Linked DNA regions of Homo sapiens. The protein of the gene in region 1 purifies or fractionates together with the protein of each later gene. This does not show direct contact. Each region holds a gene or a part of one and is shown in the gene's direction. Other genes may lie near its edges. The genes, in order: ALDH1L1, LYRM4, ECI2, ADCK2, COQ8A, OPA3 and TAMM41.

The links.
Region 2: the proteins of ALDH1L1 (region 1) and LYRM4 purify together in Homo sapiens (co-immunoprecipitation; one large-scale study listed by IntAct). This does not show direct contact.
Region 3: the proteins of ALDH1L1 (region 1) and ECI2 purify together in Homo sapiens (co-immunoprecipitation; one large-scale study listed by IntAct). This does not show direct contact.
Region 4: the proteins of ALDH1L1 (region 1) and ADCK2 purify together in Homo sapiens (co-immunoprecipitation; one large-scale study listed by IntAct). This does not show direct contact.
Region 5: the proteins of ALDH1L1 (region 1) and COQ8A purify together in Homo sapiens (co-immunoprecipitation; one large-scale study listed by IntAct). This does not show direct contact.
Region 6: the proteins of ALDH1L1 (region 1) and OPA3 purify together in Homo sapiens (co-immunoprecipitation; one large-scale study listed by IntAct). This does not show direct contact.
Region 7: the proteins of ALDH1L1 (region 1) and TAMM41 purify together in Homo sapiens (co-immunoprecipitation; one large-scale study listed by IntAct). This does not show direct contact.

Annotation. Positions count from the first base shown.
Region 1 is NC_000003.12:126,153,087-126,156,586, reverse strand, and holds part of ALDH1L1 (cytosolic 10-formyltetrahydrofolate dehydrogenase), read left to right. Parts: intron 1-1,083; coding exon 1,084-1,185; intron 1,186-1,943; coding exon 1,944-2,033; intron 2,034-3,005; coding exon 3,006-3,143; intron 3,144-3,500. UniProt on the Homo sapiens protein: Cytosolic 10-formyltetrahydrofolate dehydrogenase that catalyzes the NADP(+)-dependent conversion of 10-formyltetrahydrofolate to tetrahydrofolate and carbon dioxide.
Region 2 is NC_000006.12:5,215,951-5,219,450, reverse strand, and holds part of LYRM4 (LYR motif-containing protein 4), read left to right. Parts: intron 1-2,712; coding exon 2,713-2,833; intron 2,834-3,500.
Region 3 is NC_000006.12:4,115,206-4,118,575, reverse strand, and holds the end of ECI2 (enoyl-CoA delta isomerase 2), read left to right. Parts: intron 1-1,124; coding exon 1,125-1,268; intron 1,269-2,546; coding exon 2,547-2,702; 3' UTR 2,703-2,870; downstream 2,871-3,370. UniProt on the Homo sapiens protein: Able to isomerize both 3-cis and 3-trans double bonds into the 2-trans form in a range of enoyl-CoA species. Has a preference for 3-trans substrates.
Region 4 is NC_000007.14:140,679,445-140,682,944, forward strand, and holds part of ADCK2 (uncharacterized aarF domain-containing protein kinase 2), read left to right. Parts: intron 1-1,597; coding exon 1,598-1,693; intron 1,694-3,500. UniProt on the Homo sapiens protein: The function of this protein is not yet clear. It is not known if it has protein kinase activity and what type of substrate it would phosphorylate (Ser, Thr or Tyr).
Region 5 is NC_000001.11:226,981,794-226,985,293, forward strand, and holds part of COQ8A (atypical kinase COQ8A, mitochondrial), read left to right. Parts: intron 1-233; coding exon 234-356; intron 357-884; coding exon 885-970; intron 971-1,100; coding exon 1,101-1,241; intron 1,242-1,758; coding exon 1,759-1,840; intron 1,841-1,967; coding exon 1,968-2,061; intron 2,062-2,300; coding exon 2,301-2,442; intron 2,443-2,754; coding exon 2,755-2,862; intron 2,863-3,082; coding exon 3,083-3,148; intron 3,149-3,460; coding exon 3,461-3,500. UniProt on the Homo sapiens protein: Atypical kinase involved in the biosynthesis of coenzyme Q, also named ubiquinone, an essential lipid-soluble electron transporter for aerobic cellular respiration.
Region 6 is NC_000019.10:45,582,003-45,585,986, reverse strand, and holds the start of OPA3 (optic atrophy 3 protein), read left to right. Parts: upstream 1-1,184; 5' UTR 1,185-1,222; coding exon 1,223-1,364; intron 1,365-3,984. UniProt on the Homo sapiens protein: May play some role in mitochondrial processes.
Region 7 is NC_000003.12:11,792,414-11,794,885, reverse strand, and holds part of TAMM41 (phosphatidate cytidylyltransferase, mitochondrial isoform a precursor), read left to right. Parts: intron 1-2,472. UniProt on the Homo sapiens protein: Catalyzes the conversion of phosphatidic acid (PA) to CDP-diacylglycerol (CDP-DAG), an essential intermediate in the synthesis of phosphatidylglycerol, cardiolipin and phosphatidylinositol.

The DNA of each region.
Region 1 (3,500 bases):
CATATGTGAGGGCTGCTTGCCCCTGCCCGAGGACAGGCTGGCAGGGACGGCCACAGGCAGAGGTGCTGTCCAGGCATGCAGCAGGAGGGAAGGAGGCCCTGGGGAGCCCTTGCTGTTTGGGCGCAGCAGGAAGAGCAGCTGCAGTGTCCACTGTCCCCTCGTCCTCCTCAGCTCCTGGCCACTGCCTTTTATTTTTCGGTTGTGTTAAACTTGTCTTCCCCACAGATTGACCAGCTCACAAAAATAGTGAACAAAGTAGAGTTGCTGGAGATTTAGTGGTACAGAGAGGGAGCTTACCTGTGCTTCCCACGGCAAGCAACTCAAATACTCCTTGAAGCTGCACTGTCCAACAAGGCAGCCACTGGTAACATGCAGCTATTAAATCAATTAAAATGAATTATACTGAAAAATTCAGTTCCTCAGTCTCAGCCACATTCTAAGTCCCCTGGCCACCGTGTTGGACCGTGCAGACTTGGAACTCATCCATCACCACAGAGGGCTCCATTGGGCAGCCCTGCCTCAGATGCTCTGACACCCGGTCACTTCCCATTCTTGGCACCTCCCGGTCTCTTCCCTCAGGCTCTTGCTCACGTGGGCCCAGACTCCTTGGCTCTCCTTCTCCCTCTCTGATTCCTTTCCCACCACCTTCCTCTTTCCTGTCACAGAGAAACAACTTCCTGCTTCATCTCAGACCTCCAAACTTCCACCTTCAAGCCCACCACGGGGCTCAGGACCCACTCTCTTTAAAGGCAGAGAAGGCTTAGACAGCAACATGGACATTTGTGTCTGTGTTATACCTGCAGGGCTTTACAGTTTATATAATCATCTAAGATATCAGAAGATGTAAGATCTATGTAATCTAAACCTTTGCCAGGTAGAGAGGACGGGTCTGTGTCCGTTGTGCAATAGAAGTTAGGTTCACGCTGACTCCCTTGTTCATATGGCAGGTGTTTCTTGGGTGACTGCTGTGTACCAGGCAAGTCTGGTCAGTCTGGGGAAGGGTCCAGGCTCAATGTGGGCCCTGGGGCTGGGAAGGAGGCAGGGTCCTATTGCTGGGGATAGCAACCCACTGGATCTCCCCAGGTGCAGGCCGTGAGGCTGATCGCTGAGGGCAAAGCCCCCAGACTCCCTCAGCCTGAGGAAGGAGCCACCTATGAGGGGATTCAGAAGAAGGAGACAGCCAAGGTGAGTGCTGGGTCCCTCCACACCCTCATCCTGCCTGTGAGCAGACTGGGGTTGTAGAGGGCAGCCTGAGGAGGCTGGGGTTCAGCCCAGATGGTGCAGGTTGTAATTCTTTGAGGCCAGAACACAGGGCAGCCCAGGTCAGGGATGCATGAAGAGAGCCGTGGAGGAGGAGGACCCTGGCACCTGGGAGGGTAGCGAACAGGGTCCATTCCAGGTTCTTTCCTGTTCCTCTTTAGGAGGAATGGGCAGACAAAGCCCACAGGGAGATAAGAGTGGGAGTTAGGGGGCAAAACGTCAGCCGTAGTGCGAGCAGTCTTCAAGGCAAGGTGTGAGGGACAGTGCGGGTCTCTGGAGCAATAGCCAGTGGAGGAGCCTCAGAAGCCTGTAGGCTGTGTCTCAGCTCAGGAGTATGGGTTGCTGTGTGGGGACCCACAGGGGCCCTGCCAGTGAAAGGTTGGGCCCTATGGGACGGGCCTGAGTACATTGTGCTGGGGCCTCTGTGTAGGGTCTGGGCCATCTTGACAGCAACAGAACATTATCTTCCCCAAACCATTCTGAAGTCTGCTCAGCCCATGAGAGACTGAGGGTCAGAGAGCACCCAGAACTAGGGGCACCAGCTCAGGGACTCCTGCAAGTGTCTAAGAGGAAGCTGGGGTTACCAGCTGTCTCACAAGAGCTTGGTCCACTGTCCAGATGTCATCAGGGTGGGAGGGGAGTGAGGAGAGACCAGCTGAGCACACACACCTTGCTCCCCACAGATCAACTGGGACCAGCCGGCAGAGGCCATTCACAACTGGATCCGCGGGAACGACAAGGTGCCGGGAGCCTGGACAGAGGCCTGTGAACAGGTGTGTCCCTGCATGGCTGGAATCCAGCCACGTGCATTGGTGTATCCCACTGGCCATTAAACTGTCACACATGTTTGAACTGGTTGGTATAATAAATAGCTACTGCCCTGGCCCCTACTCCCACTGGGTGCCCCCTAAACATCCCAGCCTTTCCCCAGGAGTGAGAGACCTACCCAGCCTGCAGTAGCTAAAGGATAGATGTCCTGCGTAGCTGGAGGCCTCCAGGCCCTTGTAGTGCCCCTGGGGCCCAGCTGTATTGGTGGTGAAATATTTTGAGTCTCACCACTGGGCTTGCGGAGACCCCAGGCCCAGTACTCACTCTGACTTGGCCTCAGGCAGGGTGGAGCAGCACATTCAGGGCCAGGCTGACCGTGGGCAGGCCAGATGCTGAAGATGGGGAGACTTGGGGGTCACAGGCTCTAGTGAGGCATCAGGGGTGGCGGGACTGTGTGTGGTGGACTTTGTGCAAACCTTGAGGGCAGTCTTGTCCCCCACACAGTCTCAGACTCTCCAGACCCCTGACCCCCAGCCGACTGCCCAGACTGTGGCCAGAAGCCTCTCTGCTGTCCTCATCAACGCAGAGCCCTTTGTACTAGCAAATGCATCTTCTGATCAAAGCAACCACTCCTTGGCAGCACCCTGAAGGCAGGTAGCCTCATTCCGTGATGCCTGGAGCACATTCTCCCCCAGTCTGTGCACCTCAGGTCTGAGGCCATGGGCCAAGGAGAAGGGTCTTATGGCAGAGTTGAGGCAGACCTGCCATCAGCTCCCTGAGGCCACTGAGGCTCCTCCAGGTCTTGTTTGTGCCCCAGGAGAAAGGGCCTCAGGGGTCACATGGGCTTTGAGCCGGCTCCCAGGTCTCAGCTACCCCTGGCCCCTCTCCCTCTCCCAGCCCTGCTCAGACCTGCCTGGGCTACTGGCTTCGGGGGCTTCTTCTCACCCACCATCTTCTGATATTTCTCCCCTTGACAGAAACTGACATTTTTCAACTCAACGCTGAACACTTCAGGCCTGGTGCCCGAGGGAGACGCTTTGCCCATCCCAGGAGCCCATCGGCCAGGGGTGGTCACCAAAGCAGGACTCATCCTCTTTGGGAATGATGACAAAATGGTAAGGGCACGGCTGTGGGTCACTTGCCTGCTCAAAGCCACCCATGCTCCTGTCCTTGGACTCAGGCCTCACAGGAAGACCCTAGGCTCCTCTGGAGAAAATGGAAAAAACCAGACCCAGGAAGGAACACTGACCCTGATTTGTCCCTGACCACCCGGCTGGTCCTGAGCACAGGGTGTCCGAGGCAGTTTACCCACTTCTCTGTTCTGGGAAAGCTGGGCTCCCTACCCTTCCTGGCTAGGCACCCATCTCCAGGCTGAGTGCCCTGTGTGGGTGTCAGGCAACCTAGAATCAGAGAGAAGCCCTCCCAGGGAGCCTGGGTTCAGGGCCTCTCTTTGGTCTATCAGAAACACCTCT
Region 2 (3,500 bases), on another chromosome or scaffold:
AGGAGGGAACCATTACAGCATTCATCTCGAAAGTGCATCGAAAATTTGAATCATGACTCTTGATTGCTTTAGACACATTTAATTCCAAGATCTAGAGCTGCTTTTCTTTAGGTAAGGACTTTGGAGAGCTGGGGAGACAAACAAGTATACATAGCAGAATATCCTGACCCTGGGCCTTGAGCTCAGTTGATATAAATTGTTGAGTGTTTTAAGCTATTTTCTCATTTCCTTAAACTTTGGAAGACCTTAGGTCTTTACATTCCAAACAGTACTCCTTTTTTCCTAGCTATTCTAAGCTAGTTACTAGCTTTTAGAAAAATGAGTTTAGCAATAGCTACTGTTGCCCATTTTGTTTTTCCAAGAAGCCCATGCAGCATACGAAATGAAAAATTTAAACAATAGATGATTCCTGGAGGTAAATTCATGTTATAAACCAATTTTGCCTGTGGAACAAATATTAGAATTAAATTATTTTGTCCCCTCTTTGCTGCCATCATTGCCAAAAAAGAAACTGCTTTGGAGGAGTATGTGGTTGTCAAGAAGAACAGTGATGCTGTGTTTTATAAATAGCCATTAGGCTATGCAAGAAAGTGCCAGAAATTGCTGTTAATTTACCTAGCTGCTATCTAAAATCTTGTTAGATTAGCAGCTGCACCTGAGGAGAGTCTGTATCTGATGTATTCCATTTGTAAAATCCTCCCATATCCCTTTAGAAGTGAATGAGCCCCAGTTATTTAGCAGCTGCTAGTACATGGATTCCATGCCCAATCGCTGTAGCCCTTTAGGATTGATACTGAGCGCTCAGCAGCTCCTCTGAAATACTCCAGCTGGTTCACAGAGGGTTAAGATCAAAGTCTCAGCAGTGTCTTACATTCTAAGTACCGGTTCCTAAACTCTTCCCTTCTCCTTTATGATTCCTAGTATCATAAGATTTAGTTTTACTCTTGCTTTTAAATGCAAATAGACCTGACATTTGAATTTTTTAATGTAAAATGCCTTTTTACTTTAAAAAACTTTATCTGAAACAATTTGTCCTTTTTAAGATAAAGTTTCCCAATAAGTTATATGAGCTCCCAACACCCCCTCCGCGCTGCTCCCAAGGAAATTTATATCCCCTCCTCTCATTTCTTTGCCTGTATTTCCATTCTTCTGTTGCTAAATATTACTACTGGCATCACATGGATTCTTTAACCGGTGCTCCAAGTTAAAAGCAGAGCAGTCTGTGATCATTAAGAAGACGAGAGAGCCAGGCACTGTGGTGTGTGCTTGTAATCCTAGCTCCTTGAGATGCTAAGGCAGGAGGATAGCTTGAGCCCAGGAGTTTAAGACCAGCCTGGGCAACGCAGCAAGTCCCCATCCCCCAAAATTTTTTTTAATTAGCCAGGCGTGGTGGTGGGTGCTTATAATCCTGGCCACTTTGGAGGCTGAGGCAGGAGGATCACTTGAGCCCAGGAGTTTGCAATTGCAGTGAGCTATGATCATGACACTGCCTGGGCAACAGAGGGACACCCCATCTCTAAAAAAGAAAAAAAAAACATAGAGAAAATGGTGTCTCACATGCCTGGCTCAGTCTGCTTCTCCTTAGTCTTATGCCTTTCAATCTGGAGTAGTTGGGGTAGAGCTAGAGATAGGCCATAGCCATCTGAGTATGAGGCTGTGTCTAAGGACTGCTGAGCTGTCTGTTGTGGCTAATTATCCACACCACTCTACCTTCTGTACACACACTATGGTGTGACTGTAAGGATGCAGGATGAAGGCAAGGTTATGGCATGAGGAGAGGGAACAGTAATTGCATTAAGGCATAACAAGTGTTAAGAAGAATAGCTTTCATTTATTGAGTCTTTCTATGTAACAGGCTTTGGGCCAAATTCCAGACACACATTATAAAGCCTAGTCCTCCCAGCAGCCTTTAGCAGTATTATGCCTTTTTGACAGATGAGGAGACACGGCCTTGTGTTAAGAAGCTTGCCCAAGTTCACACAAACAGTAGAAGCTGGAGCAAGGCTACAAACCCAAGCCTGTCCGATGGGCAAGCCTTGCTCTGGAACTGCTGTCCTGTACTGCAAGTGAGCTGTCTGGTTGGGGGTGGGTGGTAGGCGTGTGCACTTTCAAGATGGAGGTAAAGAAAGCGTGTTGGCCTAATTCCACAGGTTCAACTGTGGTGGGATCCTAATGTGGACAACAGAAAGGGAAGTGAGAGCCAGAATATGGGACAAGGACTGGAAAGCATAGGTCACTATCTGGGTACATGCAAATACGATCGTCATGTAACCTCTGAATTTTTTCTTCCTTTCTTTTAAGACAGGGTCTCGCATTGTCGCCCAGGCTGAAGTGCAGTAGCACCATCATGGTTCACTGCCGCTAACCTCTGAGTTCTTGATTTGTCTCTGTACACTAAAGGTTCAATTATCCATGTAAATGGAATGAAGCCAGATGTGAATAAGGCTAAAGAACCAATAATCTAAGGAACACTTCAGTAGCAGTTTGCCATTTGTATGTGACTTGTTGAGTAGATTTATTTTCCTAAATCTGTTTGCTTAGTCATCCCAGAATGGTAGTGGATCAGCCTGCGCCACGAGCAAAGATCAAAGTGGATTATCCGTAGGGGAAGATTAAACAGTTAATTCTAAAGGAAAAACTTTAAAATTCATTTGAAAGCATAGCCTCAGACACGCTGACACCTTTTCTTTTTTTTCCTCTGAATTCATTTAGAACATATGCTGTCAGGAGGATAAGAGATGCCTTCAGAGAAAATAAAAATGTAAAGGATCCTGTAGAAATTCAAACCCTAGTGAATAAAGCCAAGAGAGACCTTGGAGTAATTCGTCGACAGGTAAGATGGTTCAATGATGTACTGTTTTTCATTAAGAGCTTTAAACTTCGACATATTCCCCTTGATTAGACAGCCGTGCTTTTGGTGTTGGTGATTTACAGAGCAGGATCATGAAACTCTGTTCCTTGTACTAATACAGACATGTAAAGGTGAACTCTCATATTTTCAGATTCAAGTTGAACTTAAAATACCAGCTTTCCGGAATTTCCAGGGAGTGTATCCTTCTGGAAAGCTGATACTTTTAAGTATGAGAAACTTCTGCATTAATTTTTTTGAAAGCTAAGTTTTTGTAAGATGTATCGCACATGTGTACTTGGATATATTTCAGAGTATAAATATATTCTCCCTTTCCTAGTATTTTTAATCATAATTCAGGATAAACAGAACGTGGCCCTTTTCTTGAAGACACCATTGTGGGTGGTGAACCTGAATTACGTTGCCACATGGGAGGTGCATCTGCAGGTGCAGATGGTGTAAAGTACAGCTGCTTGGGTGCTGACCCCATAAAGGAACCTGGAGGGTGTGTTAGTTTTCGTTTTGTGGAAGTGCCAAGGATCACCTTGACTTGTGCTTCCTTTTCTCATTCTCATGAGGTGGGTGGAGCATGTGCAGCGGCATGATCTCCTGCGTGGTCTGATAACATCCGCAAGAGTAATTAGAACGTCAG
Region 3 (3,370 bases), on another chromosome or scaffold:
GAAGGGGATTGTGACAAGACCAGAAGCTGAGCTATAGGAAAAGGCTTAGCAAATATTGCTGCAAGATCTCAAAGTGGGGCAGTGGGAATTGAGCTTGTTTTCATTGCCTATTAGGATTTTGTTAAAAACTTATATATGTATGTTTTTACTCTCATTAGGCTATCACATACCCTGAATTGAACTTGGGAAGGGGGCAGAACTGACTCTACAAGTCTTAGAGCATTTGGCTATTAGAGCATTCCTTGGCTGGGTGCAGTGGCTCACACCTGTAATCCCAGCACTTTGGGAGGCCAAGGCTGGTGGATCACTTGAGATCAGGAGTTCAAGACCAGCCGGGCCAACATAGTGAAATGCTGTCTCTACTAAAAATACAAAAATTAGCCGGGGCATGGTGGCGGGCACCTGTAATCCCAGCTACTCAAGAGGCTGAGGCAGGAGAATCATTTGAACCCAGGAGGTGGAGGTTACAGTGAGCCAAGATCGTGCCTCTGCACTCCAGCCTGGGCAGCACAGTGAGACTCTGTCTCAAAAAAAAGAAGAGCATTCCTTTTCTGGAAAAGAAATTGCAAATGGAGAGAGGATATCCACTTAATGTCCTCAGTTTTTTCGGAAGCTAACTATAAGTCTTTGCTTTCCTTTAGTCAAATAGAACTAATTTGAGTACCAATGCAGGTAAAGAAAACTCTCAGAGCCAGATCACTGGGTAGTTTCCAGAGAATGGAATTTTGAAAGTTTCTAAAGGTTGACCCAATGACCGTAATTTTTCTCTCCTTTTTTCCTCTGTAAAATAATAGTTTATAGTGTATCAAATGGAAAATCATAGCTGCTGTGGGTTATAGAATCAAGCATCTGCTTCAGATCATTTCTGCCCTGGACCCCCTGATCTTGCCCCTCCAACAACGATACACAGAAGCAGCAGCCCTTATAGACCTTCCCAGGAGCCTGTCTCAGCACACAGTTTGCAAACCGTTGCCTATTGAGGTCATCAGCTTCTCCCTTACTGAGAAATACCAGCAACCTCAAAAGACCATGAGTACATCTCTCTAAGCCTCCTGAAAGCAGTTAACTGAAGCCTTGTTTTATTAAGTTAGTATCTTAACCTTGCTTCTTGCTTTTCATTTCAGGCAACAGAGATGCTTATTTTTGGAAAGAAGTTAACAGCGGGAGAGGCATGTGCTCAAGGACTTGTTACTGAAGTTTTCCCTGATAGCACTTTTCAGAAAGAAGTCTGGACCAGGCTGAAGGCATTTGCAAAGCTTCCCCCAAATGTTAGTATTCATCTTTTACTTCTAAGAACCTTGAAAATGATTTCCTAAGGGAAAAATTTATTTGCCTTCAGAGAATAAGTCATAAAAAGCACAAGACACATCTTTAGTTACCTCTAAGCACATCTAAATTTGGAATTAAAAAATAACTGTAGTAATGTTGGAAATGCAGTACTGATTTTTACAAAACTTATCAAATAGACCTTCCATTTCTGTGTGGGGACAGAGGGCAATTCTGTATGGGGATTACTTGAGCAGGATGCTAGGCAGTATTTGCTGAGCACTTTTACTTTGGAATCCAGGTGAGAAGCATGGATTAGCTACTTTGAGAGTCTTATTGTATAGCACTTTTGTTTTTGTATGTGGTAGTGAGTGACTGATTGCTTTTATATTCTTGCTATTCAAAATGTAGTCCTGGAGCCAGAAGCTTGAGCAGCTACCTGAGGCTTTTTGGAAATGTATTATCACAGGCCTGCCCCACACCTACTGAAGCGATTTATATGCACACTGAATTTTGAGAAGCACTGTCTTATATTACACATGCAGCTTAAGATTTAACAGCATTAGGGCCGAGAACAGTGGCTCACACCTGTAGTCTCAGTACTTTGGGAGGCCAAGAAGGGCAGATCACCTGAGGTCAGGAGTTCAAGAACAGCCTGGCCAACATGGCAAAACCACATCTCTATTTAAAAAATACAAAAATTAGCCAGGCGTGGTGGTGGGCGCCTGTAATCCCAGCTACTCTGGATGCTGAGGCAGGGAGAATTGCTTGAACCCGGGAGGCAGAGGTTGCAATGAGCCAAGATTGCACCACTGCACTCCAGCCTGGGCGACAGAGTGAGACTATGTCTCAGAAAAAAAAAAAAGATTTAACAGGATTTATTAAATGAACATGGGAGAAACAAGAACCAGAATCATAGAATAATCTCACTCCTATTAGATTAACTCTTTTTTTCTTTTTGAGACAGAGTCTCACTTGTCACCCAGGCTGGAGTGCAATGGTGCGATCTCAGCTCACTGCAACCTCCGCCTCCCGGGTTCAAGCAATTCTCTTGACTCAGCCTCCTGAGTAGCTGGGATCACAGGCATGTACCACCACAACCAGCTAATTTTTGTATTTTTAGTAGAGATGGGGTTTCACCATGTTGGCCAGGCTGGTCTTGAACTCCTGACCTCAACTGATCTGCCCGCCTCGGCCTCCCCAAGTGCTGGGATTACAGGCATGAGTCCACGTCCAGCCTAGGTCAACTCTTAACCTTATTGTTGGTTTTGTTTTTCCAGGCCTTGAGAATTTCAAAAGAGGTAATCAGGAAAAGAGAGAGAGAAAAACTACACGCTGTTAATGCTGAAGAATGCAATGTCCTTCAGGGAAGATGGCTATCAGATGAATGCACAAATGCTGTGGTGAACTTCTTATCCAGAAAATCAAAACTGTGATGACCACTACAGCAGAGTAAAGCATGTCCAAGGAAGGATGTGCTGTTACCTCTGATTTCCAGTACTGGAACTAAATAAGCTTCATTGTGCCTTTTGTAGTGCTAGAATATCAATTACAATGATGATATTTCACTACAGCTCTGATGAATAAAAAGTTTTGTAAAACAAGCTTAAGAATTCACACAGGTGTTTGGTAGTAGAGAGTCTTACGTCTTTTGACATGAATCGTTGTTGCCAGGAACACTGGAACATGGTGCCTGGGGTCCTACTTTGAAAAGCACTCACAGCATTACAGGCTGAAGTCATGTCTTTGAATGCCACTATAGCACTTTGACGTCCACAAACAGTGGCTGACTGAATTGGGCCAAATGCTGACAGCCTACAGATCACTGACTTGAGGTCTTCAGTGGGTTGCATGTTCTTTTTCAGCCATGTAGCAAGGGAGCAAAATGGAAGGAATAGTATTACTAGAAAACAAATAAGAATCAAGAATAAGAATAAGAACCCAAATAAGAATCTTAGTTGGGTTTTTTTGCACAATTTAATAAAGAGGCATGAAGGGAAAACTGGGTCATTTCATTGGAAAGCAATGCTCTGTATGAGTAATTGTTTTCTTATTTGTTAGAGTCCCATTCTTGTTTAATGTGGTACTTTATGAAAGGCATCCC
Region 4 (3,500 bases), on another chromosome or scaffold:
AGTGAGGTAGCTGAGAACACTGGGTGTGGCCCGATCCCCTAGATTTGAAAATCTGCTCTGCCATTTTATTAGTTGGTGACCTGCCTTAGAGGATTGTCTCAGGAGTAAATGACACACTGAATGCAAAACAAGGAGTTGGGCACAGAGAAAGTGCTGAACAACCTTGTGTCATCTCACTTGCCCTAGCTATCCTCTACTCTAGTTCAGCCTTCTCTCTCTTTTTTTTTTTTTTTTTTTTTTTTTTTTGAGATAGAGTCTCACTCTGTTGCCCAGGCTGGAGTGCAGTGGCATGATCTCAGCTCACTGCCACCTCCGCCTTCCAGGTTCAAGTGATTCTCGTGCCTCAGCCTCCCAAGTAGCTGCGATTACAGGTGTGTGCCACCACACCTGGCTAATTTTTGTATTTTTTAGTAGAGATGGAGTTTTGCCGTGTTGGCCAGGCTGGTCTGGAACTCCTGACCTCAAGTGATCTGCCTGCCTTGGCCTCCCAAAGTGCTGGGATTACAGGCATGAGCCACTGCACCCAGCCCAGCCTCCTCTTTACAGATGGTGATATGAGATTCAGGGAATCTCATGAATGTGACATGAACCACACAGTGTTTCTAGCTGTGTGAACTTGAGCAAGTTGCTTAACCTCTCTGGGCTTTGGTTCTTTTATTTGTTAATTAGGGATAACAAGATCTATCTCCATGGGTTGTTTTGACAATTTTTTTTTTTTTGAGACAAGGTCTTGCTCTGTTGCCCAGGCTGTGGTACAGTGGCATGATCTCGGCTCACTGCAGCCTCCACCTCCTGGGCTCAAGTGATCATTCCACCTCAGCCTCCCAAGTAGCTGGGACCATAGGCACGAGCCACCATCCCCATGTCCGACTAATTTTTGTATTTTTCTGTAGAGCCTGGGTTTCTCCCTGTTGCCCAGGCTGGTCTCAAACTCCCAAGTTCAAGTGATCCTCCTGCTTTGGTTTCCAAAAGTGCTAGGATTATACGTGTTAGCCACCACACCTGGGTAATTTTTTTTTTTTTTTGTAGAGATGGGGGTCTCCTTACGTTGCCCAGACCCCTATTGGCTGATTCTTGCCCAGAAACCAGCTCTCTGGTGCCCACCCCTATCTTTTCAGGACATCACATCTCTTATCTTCAGTAGCAGAGTTGATAGGTTTCCTTTTCAATAAACCTATGTGACTTGTCATCCTTCTGATAGCTGTTATAGAAGGGAATGTAAATAAGTTCAAATCAATGTGTGGATGACAGATTTTTGTTTTGTTTTGTTTGAGACAGAGTCTCTGTCACTCAGGCTAGAGTGCAGTGGCGCAATCTCAGCTCACTGAAGCCTTGACTTTCCGAGTTGAGGTGGTTCTCCCTCATGTTGTCCAGGCTGGTCTTGAACCCCTGGGCTCAAGCAATCCTCCCAAGGTGCTAGGATTACAGGTGTGAGCCACTGCACATGGCTGAATGACAGATGGGTTCTAGGAAAGGAAATACTCTTTGGGTTACTTCCCAATAAGTGAGAAGACAGCGCTGTGGTGCCACGTGGGAGGAGGAGCCAGCATCACAGGCTGGCTGGGATTAAGCTGTTCTCTCCCTGGTCTTTCTGAAGGAGAGTGTGCCTGTGTCCAGTTACCAGCAGGCAGGAATTCCCGTGGACTTGAAAAGGAAGATTGCACGGCTGGGGATCAACATGCTCCTGAAGATGGTGAGCTCATGGCTGGAGCGGGCTCAGGCCCAGCATGTGGTCAGCTTGCAGATGGGGAGTGGGCTGGGACTCTGGCTATCTGGGTGGGAAGGAGAGCGAAGCAGCAAGCCGCCAGGTTGAGAAAGTCTGGTCTAGAAAGAGTGGAGGCTACCATAAATGGCCATGGTGTCTGTGAAGCTCTTTTATTTTTTTTTTTTTGAGATGGAGTCTTGCTCTGTCGCCCAGGCTGGAGTGCGGTGGCGTGATCTCGGCTCACTGCAAGCTCTGCCTCCTGGGTTCACGCCATTCTCCTGCCTCAGCCTCCCAAGTAGCTGGGACTACAGGCGCCCGCCACCACGCCTGGCTAATTTTTTGTATTTTTTTAAGTAGAGATGGGGTTTCATCATGTTAGCCAGGATGGTGTCGATCTCCTGACCTCATGATCCACCCGCCTTGGCCTCCCAAAGTGCTGGGATTACAGGTGTGAACCACCACACCCGGCCTTTTTTTTCCTTTTTTAAGATAGGGTCTCACTCTGTTGCCGAGGTTGGAGTGCAGTGGCAAAATCTCCATGAACTACAGCCTCAACCTCTTGGGCTCAAGTGATCCTGCCTCCTCACTCCTCAGCCTCCTGAGTAGCTGGGACTACAAACATGAGCCACCAAGCCTGGCTAATTTAAAAAATTGTTTTGTAGGGACTTACTATGTTGTCCAGGGCAGTCTTGAACTCCTGGGATCAAGCGATCCTCCCACCTTGGCCTCCCAAAGTGTTGGGATTACAGGCATGAACCACCATGCCCGGCCTCTTAAGTGCTTTGTCAGTGGCTCATGCTCTGTGTGCTGTGAGAAGAAGGGTGACCATGACCCAGTTCTGCCAGCATTGCCTGTAGTTTAGCAAACAGCTGAGACAATATCTTATTTTAAATGCTGCTTTGCTCATTTGTTCAGCAAATGTTTATTGAGCACCTGCTAGGTGCCAGGCACTGAATTAAGGGCTGGGGTTACAGCAGTGAGCAAAACAGACACAATTACAATGCTCGTGACATACTATTCCTTGGGAAGATAGGTGACGACTAAGTAAATGATTTATAGGGATAGGTACGGGGTACCAAAAGGTCATTTCGGAGGAGACTGTGCTAACCCAGGGATTCACTCAGGAAGTGGCTCCATCTCAGCTGCAGTGTGAAGGTCTAGGTGTCACTACATAAGGACAGGTGGCAGGGAGTTGTCTAGAGAGAATAGCCTTTGCTGAGGCCTGGGGTGAGCTACTGCATGGTGCTCTTGGAGAGACGAAAGCACTTAGTATGGCTTGGAAGAGAGTTTGAAGGAGGGGGCAGTGATTGCTGAGGCTGAGGAGGTGAGAGGAGGCTGAGGAGGTGAGAGGGGCCTGACCACAAAGGGTCTAGTAAATCTGTGAAAGAGTTTGGACTTTAATCCAAGGGCAGATAAGTTCATTTTGAAGATTTTTGCCCTTAACTTTAAAAAATTGAATTCCAATAATATTTAAATATAAAGTGCTCAGATCTTAAATGATGCTTAGTGAATTTTTAAAAAGCATCCCAGTGCCCAGATTAAAACATAGGAGAGTTTTGGCTGGGTGCAGTGGCTCACACCTATAATCCCAGCACTTCAGGAGGCTGAGGCGGGGAGATTGCTTGAGCCCAGGGGTTTGAGACCAGCCTGAGCAAGATGCCAAAACCCTGTCACTACAAAAAAAAAAAAAAAAAAATACAAAAATTGGCCACGTTTGGTGGCAGCATGCCTTTAGTCCCAGCTACCTGGGAGGCTGAGGTGGGATCACCTGAGCCCAGGAGATGGAGGTTGTAGT
Region 5 (3,500 bases), on another chromosome or scaffold:
ATATGTACGTGTGCATGCCTGTGTGTATTGGGAGGCGCTGGCGTAGGGCCTGGGCATGTGGCTCACACAGGCTTGGGGAGGTGGACATGGAACAGTAGTTAGTTATGTTGCTGGTTTTATGGACGCCTGGGAGGAAGGACATTGTCTGAGCCTCCGTCTGTATCAGGTGGGGCTTGCCATCCCACTCCCAGACCCCCCCGAGTGCCGTGGTGACCCCTCTTGCCCGCCCACAGGGAAGAAGGCCGTGCTGGGTTCCAGTCCTTTCCTGTCCGAGGCCAATGCAGAGCGGATCGTGCGCACGCTCTGCAAGGTGCGTGGTGCGGCACTCAAGCTGGGCCAGATGCTGAGCATCCAGGGTGAGTGGGCGCGGGGGCTGCTGCCCCGGGACTGCGTGGGCTGCTGGGGGGGTCAACTTCCAGGGCCGGGAGCAGTGGCCCCACCAAAGCTCAGTGGGCAAGATGTGAGCAGGCTGGGGAGAGATCTTAGAAGATAATAGGCCTGGTCTCCAGACGGGTGGCTCTGGGTCCAAAGAAACACATGGAATAAAGAGCAGAGAGGAAAAATTGCTCTCTACAGGTGGTCAGAACACAGGTCATTTCAACATTTTACTATGTTTTATTTTCCAAATTTCTTTTGTAATTATGAAAAACTCTGCATGTTGAGTGTAAAAAGCCCACCTTCTCAGGTCACTGGGCGGAGGCTGGGGCTCCCGGGAAGCTGAGTGGCCGAGGGCGTGTGTGCGAGGGCTCCTGTCTTTCTGGCCTCACCCGTGCTCCTGGTGGGGAGGGTGTGGTGGCCAGGGCATCCCAGGAGTGTGCCCGCCCAGGTCCTGGGCGCACACTTTAATCCCCAGGTTCGCCCTGTGTCATTCTCCTGCCTTCCAGATGATGCCTTTATCAACCCCCACCTGGCTAAGATCTTCGAGCGGGTGCGGCAGAGCGCGGACTTCATGCCACTGAAGCAGATGATGGTGAGGAGCCAGGGGCTCTGCCCACTCTCTGTGGCCTCGGCCCCCACTGGGTGGAGGGGACAGACTTGGGGCTTCTCCCGGTGGCCCAGGCAGGGCATGCTCAGAGCCCCTCCCTGGCCCTGCCCTTCAGAAAACTCTCAACAACGACCTGGGCCCCAACTGGCGGGACAAGTTGGAATACTTCGAGGAGCGGCCCTTCGCCGCCGCATCCATTGGGCAGGTGCACTTGGCCCGAATGAAGGGCGGCCGCGAGGTGGCCATGAAGATCCAGGTAGGCGGCCTGATGCGCAGTGCCTGTCCCTATGGGGGCTGCAAGGGGCAGAGCTGGGGCCTGGCTCATGGAGGCCTCTACACCCCACGTCCCGCAGGGCACCCTCTCTCCTGGCAGGGCCATATGTGGTGTCTTCTGGCCCCAGTGCCTGGACGGCACCAGAAGCTTGGGAAGTATTTGCTAAATGAGTGACTTTGGGGGCACAGAGGGGCCCCCAGCAAGCTTGATTTGGGGTGGGCAAGGACAGGGGACAAGTGATTGCTTTTTGGGGCCAGAGCTGGTGGGAGGGTGGCCGTGAGCTGTTCCCAGGGGTGAGGTGAGGCAGGAGTAGGTGGACAACGAGGCTGTGATGGGGTCCAGGTCACGGCAGCATGGCTGGGTCTTAGCTCTGGTTCTCCAGGGTGTGGGCTGGGGCCAGGACACAGCTGGGAAGCCAGTTGGGGGTTGGGGGAGTGCCCCAGGCAGGGCCCACCCGTCTCCCTGGGCTAACTCCCCTGCCTCACCCATACCCCCACAGTACCCTGGCGTGGCCCAGAGCATCAACAGTGATGTCAACAACCTCATGGCCGTGTTGAACATGAGCAACATGCTTCCAGAAGGTCTGAGGCTAGGTGGTTGGGTCAAGGGCAGGAGTGGGTGGCAGGCATCTGTGTTGGGTTCTGGGGACCAGAGGGGGTCCTCCCTGCAGAGCCCCCTTCCTCGCTGATGCCCTCCTCCCTGGCCCAGGCCTGTTCCCCGAGCACCTGATCGACGTGCTGAGGCGGGAGCTGGCCCTGGAGTGTGACTACCAGCGAGAGGCCGCCTGTGCCCGCAAGTTCAGGTGTGGCCCCCGGCCGGGCCCCTTGCGTGTTTGCACCAGGGAGGCAGAAGGGACCATGTTCAGCAGCTGGTGAAGGCCCCTCCAGCTCTGAGGGGCAGAGGGCTGGGGTTGCAGCCTGGGCCGAGGCCATATCCTGCCTGGGGTGAAGGAGGGCCCTCTGCCTGGTTGGGGGGTGTGTGTGGGGGGGGGGACGGTGTGGAGGGCCTGTGGCTAGGGCGTGACCTCCCTCCCCTACCCAGGGACCTGCTGAAGGGCCACCCCTTCTTCTATGTGCCTGAGATTGTGGATGAGCTCTGCAGCCCACATGTGCTGACCACAGAGCTGGTGTCTGGCTTCCCCCTGGACCAGGCCGAAGGGCTCAGCCAGGAGATTCGGAACGAGGTTTGTCTGTGCCAGCAGACAGGTGGGGCCAGGGTGGCCCTGCTGTGTGGCTGTTTGGTGACCTAATAGTGTGAGCTGGGGACTTGGAGCCCTGAGGTGCTCCCTGGGGGTGAGGGGCAGTGAAGTAGCACCAGTGGGACTTAGGGGGACACAGGGGAGCTGCTGCCTTCCCTGGCCCAAGTAACACTGGGAATCAAACAGTCCCTAGGGTAGGGTGGGTAAAACAGGAGGCAGGGGCTTCTCTGGCCCCAGTCTCCCAGGGCACCAGGCAGTGTGGTGCTGCCTGACACAGACCCTTCGCGCTGTCCACAGATCTGCTACAACATCCTGGTTCTGTGCCTGAGGGAGCTGTTCGAGTTCCACTTCATGCAAACAGACCCCAACTGGTCCAACTTCTTCTATGACCCCCAGCAGCACAAGGTGAGCCCCAGGGTGGGGGCACCCGCAGCCAGGCCTGAGAGCTTCTCCGAATGGGGCACGTGAGGCCCTGGACTGCCCCTTGTCCTGGGAAAGTCAGCAGAGAGCTCAGGGCTCTGGGAGTGGGGATCCTCACTGCCCTCTGTTGCACCCCCTTCCCGGCCCCACACACCCGCACCATGGAGCACCAGGGCCAAACTTCTCCTGGTGTCTCTGTCCCCAGGTGGCTCTTTTGGATTTTGGGGCAACGCGGGAATATGACAGATCCTTCACCGACCTCTACATTCAGGTAACTGGAGAGGGGCCCTGGCCTTGGTCCATGTTTTTCTGAGGCTGGGACAGGATGCTGGGGGACTCGGGGTAGGGAGAATGACTGGGTTCCTGCCCTTGTGTCCCCATCTGCGCTGCCTGCCCCTCAGGTCTGGTGACAGCAGGCAGTTAGGCTGACAGCTGCCAGGCGTGGTGTCACAGCACTGGCCGGGGGCCCTGTGCAGGGAGAGGATGAGGGTGGGGTGGGCTCGGGTGTGGCACTTGGCTCCCTGGGATGTCGGGAGCTGAGCTTTTCATGCTGCCCACGGTCCCCTCCTGTGCCTCTCCCCAGATCATCAGGGCTGCTGCCGACAGGGACAGGGAGACTGTGC
Region 6 (3,984 bases), on another chromosome or scaffold:
TTTTTTTTTTTTTAGTGGAGATGGGATTTCACGATGTTAGCCAGGTTGGTCTCAAACTCCTGACCTCAGGTGATCCACCCTCCTCAGCCTCCCAAAGTGCTGGGATTACAGGCGTGAGCCATGGCGGCCAGTCCTCTGTTCCTGTTTTCTTCTGTCCCTCTGCCTCCGAGAATCTCTCAATTACCCATCAGCACTCCATCATCCAGGAATTTCTCTCAACCCCTTCCTGACATTGTTTATATGATTTTACTCCCTGCTGGGTAAGAAAGGACAGTCTGGGACATGTCCTTAAATTTATTTCTGAACTAGCTCCCTGGGGAACCTACCTCCTAATGAAGGAAGTTGGGTTGCTTGAGAACGGGTATGGTTTTATTGGCCAAGATGCCAGGCTATCAACCTCTGCAGGAACCTTGTGCCACCCCCTGCCCTGCTCTGGGCCTCAGTTTCCTTGTCAGTTACTTGGGAAAGGGTTGGATTCGCTGCTTCTGGGGGTGAAATGCACCCTCAGGCTGGATTTAGCATTAATAATGCAATCATGACCTGTATAGTAAGAAGGGCTATTTACTGAGCGCTTAACTATATGAATGGCACCATTCTAACCACTTCCCATGGTCCACTGTTTTACACTCAAGATTAGCATAGAAGCCTCACAACAACCCAAAGAGGCAACTGCTATTAGGATTCCCATTTGGTAGACGGTAATACTGAAGTCCAGAGAGGTTATGCCACTCATCTAATATTACACAGCGAGGAAATGGCAGAGCTGGGATCCCAGCCAAAGTCTGTATGACCGCGCGGCTTCCTCTTAATCCCAATGAGAGCCCTAGCTTGCAGAGGAAGGTGTATTTGGGGCTCATAGGACTAATTAGGACTAATTAAGAGCCTCCTTTGGGTGGGGACGCCAACTCGGAACGTGACATCACGAAGGAGTACAGTGACGTTGGCCAAGGCGGGCGTGGGAATCCACACGCCTTCCAGCATCCGTTTAACGGCACCGCCCCCTGACCCGCCTCACTTCCGTGTATATTTGCATATTCAGCGAACGGACGTCGCTACGCCAGCGTCGACGGGGTGACGTCAGGATGCGCCTCTGAAGTTTCCCTCGAGCGTACGTACATACGTACTGACGCACGCATGGCCACGAGAGGGCGGGGGAGGAGTGAAGAGGTTGAGGCGCCCCGCCCAGTCAGCAAGGTTGCGCGTGCCCTGTGAGACCGCCAAGATGGTGGTGGGCGCGTTCCCTATGGCGAAGCTGCTATACTTGGGCATCCGGCAGGTCAGCAAGCCGCTTGCCAACCGTATTAAGGAGGCCGCCCGCCGAAGCGAGTTCTTCAAGACCTATATCTGCCTCCCGCCGGCTCAACGTGAGTCTGACCCGAATTCCCTCCAACCTTTTTCCTTTCTCCAACCCCTGTCAGGTGGTTGCTTAGGGGATGGACTTCTGTCTACGACCAATCACAGCCCGAACCGGCAAAGTCCAGTGGCCAATAGTGGGGGGTTTCTGATAGAGGGGCGTACGGGTGGCCCAGTAGTGAGGGCGGGGCGGGGCGTAAGGGGCGGGTCAAGGAGCCACCACGCGAGTAGGAAATGCCAGCCGATAAAGGAAGAGAGCGCTTGGAGACTGATGCCCTGTTAAACCAATAGTGTGAGAGATGGGAGAAATTTGGACGGGGCTTTCCAGGATAGAGGAGCTAGGGGAGGGGCTGAGGAGAAACCGGACGGGGTCCTTTGCCCGGCTGTCCTTGGGCAACTTCATTTCAAAAGCGGCACCGTGTGCCTCAGTTTCCCCACTGATCTAGGAGGTGCTTGTATATCCTCCGTTTAGGACGTCGACGTGCCTCAGTTTTACTGTAGTCAATAAGTCTGGATTAGGGGCATGGTTCGGGGGTGAAGTCTGGGTTCTGGAGACATGGCCTGGGAATCCGGAAAAGGACTTTGAGCCAGAGAGGACATTCATCTGTGTACTCATTAATGCGCTCATACGCCGTCCTTTCATTCGGTTGACAGACTATGCGGCCTTTTTGCTCAGCACTGGGAGATATACTCCTGATCCATCACTGTCAACCCAGAGTGGTCGGGAAAGTGGGAGCCCCGGAGCTCAGAGGAACTGGCTGACCCAGGGACCTGAGGCCAGCAGGGCTGCCTAGAGGGGGCCGCCCGAGCTCAGATCTAAAGGGCATAGTAAGGTCCGGCGCGGTGGCTCACACCTGTAATACCAGCACTTTGGGAGGCCGAGGCGGGCGGATCACATGAGGCCAGGAGTTCGAGACCAGCCTGGCCAACATAGTGAAACCCGGTCTGTACTAAAAATACAAAAATTAGCTGGGTGTGGTGGCGCACACCTGTAATCCCAGCTACTTGGGAGGCTGAGGCAGGGGAATCGCTTGAACCTGGTAGGTGGAGGCTGCAGTGAGCCTAGATTGTGCCATTGCACTCCAGCCTGGGCGACACAGCAAGACTGTCTCAAAAAATAATAAATAGAAATAAAGGGCTTAGTAAACACCCAAAATATAAACTACTTTAAAAAGGTGATCTTGCCGGGCGCGGTGGCTCACGCCTGTAATCCCAGCACTTTGGGAGGCCGAGGTGGGCAGATCACGAGGTCAGAAGATGGAGACCATCCTGGCTAACACGGTGAAACCCCATCTCTACTAAAAATACAAAAAAATTAGCCGGGCGTGGTGGCTGGGCGCCTGTGGTCCCAGCTACTCAGGAGGCTGAGGCAGGAGAATGGCGTGAACCCGGAAGGCGGAGCTTGCAGTGAGCCGAGATCGTAACACTGTACTCCAGCCTGGGTGACGGAGCAAGACTCCGTCTCCAAAAAAAAAAAAGGTGATCTGTGTTGTGCTACGTGGGACATAAAATAAGGGAATTTAGCATCATTGGCTGGGTCAGAGAACCACTGAAACCGCCTTTGCAAAATTATGACTGACACAGCGAAAGAGATCTAAGTTAACTTACTCCATCTTGCTTCTAACCTCCAAGCTATCCTTGTTCATTCCTGGGCAAAGGCTGAACTAACTTTGGGAGAGATTTAGTTTGTAGTTTATAGTTTAAACAAACATGGTAACAGCCCTTTCCCAAAGCAGACCTCCTTCTTGTCTGGCGACTGGATTGCCTTTGTAGGACTAACATTAGCCACAAGATTAGAAATTATGGTTTAGGAGTCATGCAGCTGGAGGGTACAAGATTCTGACCCTCCCTAAACTGCTCCTAAGATCAGTGCTTGAGATATTTCACAGACCCTGCACTTGATGGATCAGCTGGCCTTACCCAGATCAATAAACTGGCCCATCTGATCTTGTGGCCCCCCAACCCAGGAACTGACTGAGCGCAAGAAGACAGCTCCGACTCCCTGTGATTTCATCTCTGACCAATCAGCACTCCTGGCTCACTGGCTTCCCCTCACCCATCAAGTTATCCTTAAAAACTCTGCTCCACCGAGATCGCACCACTACACTCCAGCCTGGGCGACAGACCGAGACTCCGTCTCAAAACAAAAACAAAAAACAAAAAAACTCTGCTCCAGCTGGGCCCATTGGCTCGCATCTGTAATCCTAGCACTTTGGAAGGCTGAGGGGGGTGGAGCACCTGAGGTCAGGAGTTTGCAACCAGCCTGGCCAGCATGGTCAAACCCCGTCTCTACTAAAAATACAAAAGTTAGGCGGGCTTGGTGGCGGGCGCCTATAATCCCAGCTACTCGGGAGGCTGGAGCATGAGAATCGCTTGAACCCGGGGATGGAGGTTGCAGTGAGCCAAGATCGCGTCACTTCATTCCAGCCCAGGCGAAAGAGTGAAAATCCATCTCAAAAAAAAAAAATAAAATAAAATAAAAATAAAATCTCCCTGAATGCTCAGGGAGACTGATTTGAGTAATGGTAAGACTCCTGGCTGGGGCGCGGTGGCTCACGTCTGTAATTCCAGCACTTTGGGAGGCCGAGGTGGGTGGATCATGAGGTCAGGAGTTCGAGACCAGCCTGACCA
Region 7 (2,472 bases), about 110 Mb from region 1:
CTGGAAGGATGTTTTGGGGATACTAATTTTATCAAAGGTCTGAAACGTAAGATTATGGAAAGATAGAGATCTTTCACAGCCTAGCCATATTTCTACCTCACATTGTTTCCTGGAGAGTTTGTCTGTCAGTAGCCCATCTGTTTTAAGATCACACGGGGAGTTCATAGTCTTACGTGTGTATTAACTTCGCTGTAGGTCATGTGAAACAAGCTGGAAATCAGAAGAGAAACCTAAGGAGCCATATAGTGACATAGCTTTCTGCATGCTTCTAAAACAAAATCCTGACTTTAGATTCTAACCAGAATTCATAATGACTAGCTTTAGGTAAATAAGGATCTCTCTACAGGGAATGCATCTAAAGAGATGTTGCATTTTTATCCACTGGGGAAGGAGTGAGCAGAATTCCTAAATCATCATCCTTTCCTGTAGAAAGAGTAAGCTTAATGTAATCTGGGCACAGAGGCTCACACCTGTAATCCTAGCACTTTGGGAGGCTAAGGTGGGAGGATGGCTTGAGGCCAAGGGTTCAAGACCAGCCTGGGCAACAAAGCAAGACCCCATCTCTACAAAAATAAAATAAAATTAGCCGGGCGTGGTGGCATGTACCTGTAGCCCCAGCTACTCAGGAAGATGAGGAGAGAGGATCTCTTGAGCCCAGAAGATCGAGGCTCCAGTGAGCTTTGATTATGCCACTGCACTCCAACCTGGGCGACAGAGTAAAAAAAAAAAAAAAAAAATTGAAGAAAGTAAGCTTAGTGTAGACCAAGTAGAAGTCTATGGATTGTGGACTCTGTGAGGGCAGAGACCATAGCTGTTATCTGTACCAGTATCCCTAGCAACTAGTTCAGTGTCTTGCTTATACAGGTGCTCAATAAATATTTGTTCTATGTGTGACCAAATAAATGAAAGATTCTAAATTTTCTGGTAGTAGGAAATATCTCCATATAGATAGAAAAGTGCAAAAATCATAAATCTGATGAATTTCCACAAAGGGAACACCTCATAGACCTAGTGCCCAGGTAAAGAAATACAGTCATTCCAGTCCCCAGTACCCCTCATGCCCGTCACAGGCATTGCTTCTCCGAGAGTAAGCTCCAGCCTGACTCCCAGTGCCACGGTTCTGTTTTACCCATTTTTTAACCATGTATAAGCATGTCCTCTTTTGTGCCTTTCCCTGTTCATTTATAACATAGGGAGATTCATCGTGTTGGGAGTAGCAGTGGTTCATTTCTGCCCAGTGCAGTATTCTGCTGTGTGAATATACCGCAATGTATCCATTCTACTATTGATGGATACTTGGGTTGTTCCCGCTTGGGACTATTAGAAGTAGTGCTGCTGTGAATATTTTTGTACCTGTCTTTTGGTGGGTGGGTGTATGCATTCCTGTCAGGTATGTACTGAGGGGTAGAATACCTGGATGATAAAGCATGTGACTGTTCAGCTTTAGTAGAAACTGCTAAACAATCGTCCACATTTATACTTGCACTAGCAGAGCTTCTGTTGCAGCACCTCCCTGAATGCCTGTTTAGGTCTTTTTCATTTTAGGCACTCTAGTGGGTGACTAGTGGTACCATATTGATCTTTTAATTTACATTTTCCTCATGACTGAGGAAGTTGAGCATTTTTCATTTGTTTATTTGGATATGCTCTTTTGTGAAGCGTCTATTCTAGTCTTCTGCTCATTTTCCTACTGAGTTGTCTCTTTTGCTTACTGAATTCTCTCTGTAGTCGGGGCACAACTCCATTGTTGGATACATGTGATGTCAAAATCCCCCACTCCGTGGCTTGTCATTTCACTCTCTTTTTTTTTTTTTTTTTTTTTTTTTGAGATGGGGCCTTGCTCTGTGGCCAGGCTGGAGTGCAGTGGCGTGATCTCGGCTCATTGCAACCTCCGCTTCCCGGGCTCAAGCGATTCCCCTGTCCCAGCCTCCTAAGTAGCTGGGACTACAGGCACATGCCACCACGCCTGGCTAATTTTTTGTATTTTTAGTAGAGACGGGGTTTCACCATGTTGGCCAGGTTGGTCTTGATCTCCTGACCTCATGGTCTGCCCGCCTCGGCCTCCCTAAGTGTTGGGATTATGGCTGTAAGCCATGTCATTTCACTCTCTTAATGGTGTCTTTTGGTGAAAAGAAGTTCATAATTTCATGTAGTCCAGTTTATCCATTTTGTTTTCTATATGTTTAGCAGTTTTTTGTGTCCTGTTTAGAAAATTTTTGCCTATTCCAAAATCATGAAATTTAAGTTCTCCACCTCTGTTGAAATTATAATATTAAGGCAGAAAAGACTCTTCATTCTGATCTGTTGGTTCTTAGCCTTTTGCAAGTCCAGGATCCCTGTGAAAATCTGACTAGAACTCTGGACGCCCTGCACAGAAGTGCACCTACGCACACACACAGTAGATTTTCCTGCAGTGTTAGGGAGTTCACAGACACTCAGACTTAATCTGTGGACCCCTTGTTAGAGAACCCC